Linked DNA regions of Homo sapiens: regions 1 and 2 are each linked to region 3. The links come from fine-mapping of genetic effects on gene expression. A gene starts in region 3. Each other region holds a variant in brackets. All regions are shown on one strand. Distances are from middle to middle. Region 1 holds the start of SLC15A2 (solute carrier family 15 member 2). Region 2 overlaps HCLS1 (hematopoietic cell-specific Lyn substrate 1). Region 3 holds the start of HCLS1 (hematopoietic cell-specific Lyn substrate 1).

Region 1 (2,764 bases), 230 kb after region 3:
GATTTAAGAGCCATCTTAATATTATATAAATGGCTCAAGACTATGCCTTGGGAGCCTAGGGTTCCAGTCCTTGCTTTGTCCCTTCTGAGTTCCTCTGAAATAGAATAGGAGAGAATTTATGACCAGTGTTTCCCAAATTCCTAGCGTAAGAATTGCTAGAGGTGCTCGTTGAAAACAAAGATTCTTAGATCCCTACCGAGATCTACTGAATTGGAATTTCCAAAGGAAAATGATTCTTATCCTCAGGGAAGTTTCACTCACATAGGACAAGATTAAGATTCCTTCCATCTCTGATATTATTCGATTCTGTGAATACTATCATTATACTGCCATAATCAAAAGAAGAATTTTGTCTAAACAAAGGAGTGTCAGAAAACCACTGCCAATACTCCAAAGTTTAGTATTTGGGATACCTATGAGCACAAATAAATTGGTACATTGCATACAGGTGCTATTCCATCTACTCTGCCAGATCAAGGAAAGCCACAACATAAGTGGATCTTCAAGGCATCTGTGCCTCTGCTAGTTAACTTGACTAGTAACTTCTGACCATTTATTTTCCAGCCAAAGTCATTAACCAAACCAATTCAGAAATGGCAGTGCTTCCTGAAAGAATAACTATACCTTAATTATTAATGCCACAGTCAGAAATGAAGCTGGACTCTTCTTTGGGTAAAGGTTGGTGGGAGACAGTAGAAATGAGGGGTGTAATAGAAGCTGAGAAGATATGGTCAAAGTCTGAGTTAAAGTTTAGAGAGGAAAAGACAGTTTATCCTGGCCCTATTTGTCAATAAATTATTTGAATAGTTAAAGTAAAAATTTTGTGAGGGATAGAGTTATAGGTTTTCTCTCTTGTATTTTCAAATAAAATAATTCATTCTGATGTTGCCTGACCTTGTTGATTTAGTCTTCATTTTTCTTATTTCTTTTATAGCTCTCTAGCCTTTCTTTTCCCTTTTCTTTTGACAAACAACTAGAGGGGCACCATGCTCTTTTCTTATCCTTTTACTTCTTTGGCTTGACAAAAATAACACAGCATAAAATGCACCTAGCATTATGATGTTTGTTCTTGTTCCTCTTCTGATAAGGACTAAATGTATAATTAAGGAAAATGGTGTTCACAACAGTACCTAGAAAGTAACTGGTTCACAATTTTTGCTCAAATTAAATTTTATTTATTAAATGAAAGAATAGATTAATCTTGAAGTGAGAAAATGAAAATATAAGGAGTGACTTTAGCAAAGAA[G/A]AACAATGGTTCCCAAATGTATATCACCAATCCTTTTCTCTCATTTTCTTTAGCCCCACCTCTTTAATTGCTTATAGGCTATTTCTAGCTGAACTTTTATGATGTTGAAAACAAAAGTCTCCTTCCTTCCTTCCTTTCTTTTCTTTTCTTTCTTTCCTTTCTTTCCCTTCTTTTCTTTCTTTCTTTCCTTTCTTTCCCTTCTTTTCTTTCTTTCTTTCAAGTCTTGCTCCGTCGCCCAGGCTGGAGTGCAGTGGTGGGGTCTCGGCTCACTGCAACCTCTGCCTCTTGGGTTCAAACGATTCTCCTGCCTCAGCCTCCTGAGTAGCTGGGACTACAGGCGCGTGCCACCACACCCAGCTAATTTTTGTATTTTTAGTAGAGATGGGGTTTCACTATGTTGGCCAGGCTAATCTTGAACTCCTGAGCTGTGATCAGCCCACCTCGGCCTCCCAAAGTGTTGGGATTACAGGCGTAAGCCTCTGCACCCAGCCAAAACTCACCATCTTTCTTATCTTCCAAACTCAGTTTTATGATGACTTTCCTTCTCCAATGCATTTTAATCCTCTGCATTCCTACATTCCATTTATGTAACCTCCATACCTGAATAATGACTGACACTAACTCCACTTTTCCCAGCTGTCATGGCATAGTGAAAATTCCAGATCTGCCACTTAGTGGACAGGTACTTTGAACAAATTTCTTAACCTCTGGGAACATTACTTTCTATAAAATGGGGATAGTAATATGAATTAGAATAAATATATATGTTATAGATATACAACATAGATGTAATTCATATATATTAACCTTTCAATAGTAGATGTTCAATAAATTACAGCTATTGTTACCCTGAAATCAGTTTTTCTTTTTTTTTTTTTTTGGAAATGGAGTTTCGCTCTTGTTGCCCAGGCTGGAGTGCAATGGTGCAATCTCAGCTCACCGCAACCTCCGCCTCCCAGGTTCAAGTGATTCTTCTGCCTTAGCCTCCTGAGTAGCTGGGATTATAGGCGCCCGCCACCACACCCAGCTAATTTTTTTTTTGTATTTTTAGTAGAGACGGGGTTTCACCATGTGGGCCAGGCTGCTGACCTAAAACGATCCGCCTGCCTGGGCCTTCCAAAGTGCTAGGATTATATGCGTGAACCACCGCGCCTGACCATGGAATCAGTTTTTCAATCTGTGCTCGAGGTGTTGTGTTCTTAACTATCTTCTACTCCTTTGCAAAGATAATCTTTCTTAAACATAGACTTTCTAATCAGTTCTCTAGCATTGTTTCATTCTGTCTTTGGCATGTTTTCACTTTGCTGTGCTGTACTTTTACACATTCTTTTTAACTATAGCTTCCTGCTTTGCTCTGGATCAGGAAGCTATTGAAGCTGACACCCACAGAGTTAAACTGAGTTGCTGAAGCCACCAGCTCCCCCTCCCAGTCCTTCTTTTCAGAGTAGGCTGGCAGCTGTCCTAACTGCCTACTAAAGCCAAATGCTTGAGGAGAGAGAGAGAGTAAGGAGCCAGCCA
Region 2 (2,764 bases), 21 kb before region 3:
TAGGATCGAGGCTCTGTGATTCTAATTTCCATTTAAGAATGGGGGAGGAGGGAAGAAAGCCAGAAACGAAGCTCTGTCCACTCCTATAAGAGAGTGCTAGAAAAATTCTACTCATTTACTCAGGAAAATCATGAAGGGGGCTTGTAACCTGTTCAATATTTGATAGGGGGAAAATTTGCTTATGAGACTTGGAAACTCCAAGCCTACATCTGAGTGTAGAATGCAAATACACATTTTTTTTCCACTTATGTGATGCAGGAATTCTAAGCTGAGAAATTAACTAAATACTGATCCAGGAAAATATACATTTTGGAAAGAGTAAGCATAAGAAAGATGGCATGAATATGAGATAAAGTGATCTCAAGACAAAGTGCATTCTAAGAGACAAGAAAGACATGCTCCAATGATAAAAGAACAATACCTTACATCAGGAGTATGTATGCTGGCATAAACCTATTCACAGAACCAAAATTCATGAAGCTCTCAAATAAAAGAAAAATGTAAAAAACCAGGTGTGGTGAATGCCTGTAGTCCCAGCTACTCAGAAGGCTGAGGCAGGAGGGTGACTTGAGCCCGGGAGTTCGAGACCAGCCTGAGAAACATCGCAAGACTCCAACACACACACACACGCACACACACACACACACACACACACACACACAAATAATGCAAAAGCTGACAGAAGTAGAAAGAGAAATAGACAAATCTGTAATAGTAGTTGAACATTTAACACCATTCTTTCATTAATTAATAGGTATTTTAGGCAAAAACGAATCAGTAAAATTATAGAAGATCCAAACATTATCAACTAATAAACCTAATTGACTCTTATACAACACTATACCCCAAACTACAGAATATACTTTTTTCATGCATATAGAACATTGACCAAATAGACCATGTGCCAGTCCATAAGTCTCTAAGACAGTAAGTCTCAGTACATTTCAAAAGACTGAAATATCAGAGATCATATTCTGATCACAATAGAATTAAAGTAGAAGTCAATACCAATAAAATTATCTAGAAAATTTCCCTGATGCTCAGAAAATCAATAACAGCTTTTAAATAATACATGTGTCAAAGAAGAAATTACAAGGGAAATAAGAAAATATTTTTAACTGAATGATTTTATTTTTTGTTGTTGTTGTTGTTGTTGTTGTTGTTGTTTTTTGAGACAGGGTCTCACTCTGTTGCCCAGGCCAAAATGTAGTGGCACAATCATGGCTTGCTGCAGCCTCAACCTCCTGGGCTCAAGTGATCCTCCCACATTAGTCCCCTGAATAGCTGGGACCACGGGTTTGTGATGAATGAAAATTAAAACACACACATTCAAATATTTGTTGAATGTAGCAAATGTTTGTAGCAAATGAAGGTAGTGTTCAGAGGGAAATGTATAGCTTTTCAAGTGCCCATATAGTAAAGGAAGGCTTAAAATCAATTATCTAAGTTTCTAC[T/C]TTAAGAGGCTAGGAAAAGAACAAACTAAATTAATACTAAGTAGAAGAAAAACATAATAAAGATAAGAGCAGAAACCAATACATTTTTTAAAACAAGTAAATAATAGAGAAAATTAGCAAAGCCAAAAGCTTGTTCTTTGGAAAGAGTAATAAAATTGATAAACTTCTAGTAAGAATAATTAAAAAGAGAAAAAACACAAGTAAGTAAGATCAGAAATGAAAATAGGCATTTCATATCACTAGAAATCTTACAGAAGTTAAAAAGAAGAGAATATTATAAATGAATTTATGCCAATAAACCTGACAACACAGACAAAATGAACAAATTCCTTGAAAAGCACAACATACCATAACCAACTTAAAAACCAGAAAGACTTGAACTCCATGGGAAAAAATAATAATAAAGGAAAAAAAATGTCCGTTACTATTAAGACCTCTAGAGTTGAGCCAGAAGTAGAGGCAATATTTCCCTGGATGAGGTACTTACTAAACCCAGGGCACATGAAATTCTCATAAAACAAATATCCCTCTCCTTCACTAAAATAAGTTTATAAACAAGATTACAAACCATCAAGGAAATAAATAACCATGAGGAACGCAGATTAGTCAGAAGAAATGGCACAGCCAAGAACTGCAAATAATATAAAATATGAAAGAAACTGCAAAGTACATGTTTAAAATAATTAAACAGCTTAAAGAAGTGGCACAGGGAACCATAATGAAACCATAATGTCTTATGGAAAATGAATCAGCAGATATGCAATAGAACCAAAAGAAACTCCAGAAATGAAAATATCTGATGTGGTGGCTCATGCCTGTAATCCCAGCACTTTGGGAGGCCAAGGCAGAAGGATCACTTCAGCCCAGGAGTTTGAGGCCAGCCTGGGCAACATAATAAGACTTTATCTAAAAAAAGAGAGGGAAGGCAAGGGAAGGGGAGGGGAGGGGAGGGGAGGGGAGGGGAGGGCAGGGGAGGGGAGGGGACGGGAGGGCAGGGCAGGGCAGGGCAGGGCAGGGCAGGGAAGAGAAGGGAAAGGAAGGGAAGGGAAGATATTTGAAAGAAAGTTTAAAATGCAATGGACAGCTTAAACAATAATGAAATACAGCTAAAGGAAGAATTAGTGAACTTAACCTAGAGCTAAAGGAATAACCCAGAATGCGGCACAAGGACATAAAGAGAAGAGAGAAGAGGTATTATTCCAAGAGAAAATGCCTGAGAACTTCCTATAATGAAAGTCACATCTGAGGTTGAAAAAGGGCAGTAAGTCCCATATAGGATAATAAAAGTAGATCTAACATTCAGACACACC
Region 3 (2,764 bases):
CTCCTGTCTCCACCTAGGCCTTCAGATTCTCCAGTTTTCTATTTCCACTTGAAAGCTCCATCTTCTCCATTGAGCAACCTCTTAAAAACCAGCCCAGGGGAAGTCTGGGTAAATCAGTTAAAGAGATGCTAAGGGGACACCGGAGAGATATTGACTGAGTCAGCCGGGAGTCATGGCTGAAAGCAGCTTGGCTTTCCCTGATGCGGTTGGAGACAGCAAAACATCCTTACTACCTGCATCCTTACTACCCCTCTGCTTCTCATCCCCTGGCTCCTGGGCTGCTGTGCAACAACAAAAGGACTGTCACACAGAAAACTGGAATGGAGAAGTTTCTGAAATAGTCATGAGCAATAAGGAAGCAATGAGGACTGATGGTCCCATCCTCCTTCCTGTGGCTCCTCTGAGGCCTCAGCCTGACTCTCCCATTCACCCATTTTTGAAATAAAGAGTTTCTGAAATAGAGACAATTTATCTAATATCCTTGACCTATTGACCAGAAACCAGAAAGGTAAGAAGTGCTATCTAGAGGTGAGAACCAGAGAGTAATCTGGTGAGGCCTTGTTGCGATGCTGACCTCCTGCATCAAAGTACACAGACTGGGAGTCAGAAGCCCTGGCTGTCACCCCAGCTCTGTGACTAAGCCTCTGAGGGACCATCACAAGGGCATCAACAGAGTAGGTACTCATTTGCCAGGTATCAGACCAGGCGATTAAGAAATACTAACTTTAATAATTTGGCAAATCAGCAATTATCTCTGATTTTCCCAGTGGAAAATAATGAAGGGGTTAACGTAGCTCATCTGTGGTCTCCTTGATTTCTGACATTCTGAGATTCTGTGATCTACGAACACAGAAACTAGCCCCAGCAGAACAATCATGCCTTCTCTTGGGCTCCATCAGCACTTGGTACTCAGTGCTAGTGTACATCAGTGACTACTTCCTGATCTGTTACATTTCCTGTGTGGGTTTGTTTCCCTGAGACCATATGCTCTTCAAGGGCAGACACTGTTTTCGTCTCCTGTGGTCCTCCTCCCAGCTCAGTACCTAGGGGAGACAGGCCTTAGAGTGGGTTGTAGATTGTCAGCAGAAACCAGGCAACACTTTGCTTGATGTTGGTGCTAGATGGCTCCTGAAACACTTGCCTTGGGTTTAAGCCCCTCCCTTTTGTTTCTATCTCCAGATGCTGATTTGCTACAACCACTCACAACCAGGCCTTCTGGCCATAAAAGGATAAAAGCCTACTAGTGGTGACCTTGCCCATCACCAAGGACTAAGAGCCAGGTAGGTTCCTCCTCAACTCTTACTCTGTGTTTCCCAACTGTCCCATGGCTCAGAGTACCCACCTCCACCTGTGCAAGCCTCTGTTCTAAGCGCCCGGCTCCTCGCGTCCACACCGACTCCCTCTCTGGCTGCTGCCACTTCGGAGTGAGAAACTGAGCTGCTGCTTCAGTTCCGTATTCAGGTTTTCGTCATTTCCTGCCACCCCATCCTCACAGCTACTTCCTGAAATTTGAGTCAGTTCCTTCTGCTTTAGACACTTAAATTTTAAAAGGATTAAATGTTTCTGTGCCTGGTCTTTTGCAAGGTTTTGACAATGGGGGTCATAGAGCAGTCATAGAAAATGCTGCTTTGACTCTGAGTTTGTAATCCAGTGAGAGAAACAAACATTCAACCAGAAAACACATTAGAGAATGCTGTAGAACAGCATTGTGTCCTAAATAGGGTGGCAGTTACATTTGAGACAGTAAAGGAATTCAGAGCATTTGGTATTGGGTGTATTCATCAAGAAAGGCTTTATGGGAAAAGTGATTTATATGTGGGTTTTGAAGCATAAGACTTAAAAAGAAACTCACCCCTATATTACCCACAGCACTTAAAAGTGGAGTTTTCATATAGATGTTCAAATAAACGTCGACCAATTGAATGCCAGAAGAGAATAACTCATGAGGGAAAAGGCAAGACATGGAAGGAGAGTTTCCTAGCTTGTTTGGGGCACTGTGGAGTCTGAGCTAACAAACTAAAGATTTGGCTCTAGAGCGTAGGAAGAATTCTGAAAGAACCAGGTGCTGGTCAGCTGATGGAAGAAGGTCTTTGTGGTATCCTGTTTTACTGCGTGTCAAGACTTGCTGCCCCTCCCTTCCCTCTTGAAGTCAGACTTACTCAGGTGACTTGTTTTGGCCAGTGACAGATACCACTTTCTGGCGGAGGCCGTAAGACCACTGCAAGCTTTGCCATGCTTTCACCACTGCCCAAGGCAACCTGCAATTCTCCATATTGGCTCCTCCAGCAGACTGGGTCCCTGAGTGAGAAAGAACACAAGTGGAGCCCCATCCACCATGTGGGGGAATTGGAGTCTTTCACTAAAAAATAGTCCTTTGTTTTGGCTACTGAGAATTTGAGGGTGTCTGTTATTGTATCTGACCTAGCCTTTCCTAATCTTGATTGTGGACTTCTTGATTTGTTCACAACGGTGCATCCTCCAAGGAGTTTAAGCAGGACTGGATGAAACTGGCCCATGATACAGGCACTTTTCTGCATTAGGAATATGAAGCCTCTGTCACTTCCAAATCTAAGGATTCTATGCCTGGGGGAGCTTTATTTATTCCTTCTACTTTATTACCTATTTATCATGGTGGTACCAAAGTTATGATAAGGAAGAGTACGTTTGTACAAGAGAAAAATCACTTGGAATCCTCATGTAGTGTCAAAATACGATTTAGACTAGATGATGTGACACACCATCCAGGTACATAGTTCTCTAGAGA

The links. PIP is the estimated chance that this variant, and not a neighbour inherited with it, causes the effect.
Region 1: its variant is the best candidate, but not a certain one, in a credible set for the expression of HCLS1 in whole blood (INTERVAL, PIP 0.58).
Region 2: its variant is the best candidate, but not a certain one, in a credible set for the expression of HCLS1 in whole blood (INTERVAL, PIP 0.76).

The regions. Positions count from the first base shown.
Region 1 is chr3:121,891,714-121,894,477 of GRCh38, forward strand. SLC15A2 (solute carrier family 15 member 2) reads left to right here and starts at 2,688. Exons shown (of 22, transcript NM_021082.4): 1 at 2,688-2,764. The coding sequence starts at 2,764. RefSeq lists enhancers at 1,114-1,647, 1,648-2,180. The variant G/A (reference allele first, on the strand shown) is at 1,247.
Region 2 is chr3:121,638,396-121,641,159 of GRCh38, forward strand. The region is part of intron 6 of HCLS1 (hematopoietic cell-specific Lyn substrate 1); the gene reads right to left. Among named protein-coding and RNA genes, the nearest start is that of HCLS1, 21 kb to the right of the region's middle. The variant T/C (reference allele first, on the strand shown) is at 1,455.
Region 3 is chr3:121,659,478-121,662,241 of GRCh38, forward strand. HCLS1 (hematopoietic cell-specific Lyn substrate 1) reads right to left here and starts at 1,426. Exons shown (of 14, transcript NM_005335.6): 1 at 1,343-1,426. RefSeq lists enhancers at 1,269-1,458, 1,649-1,698.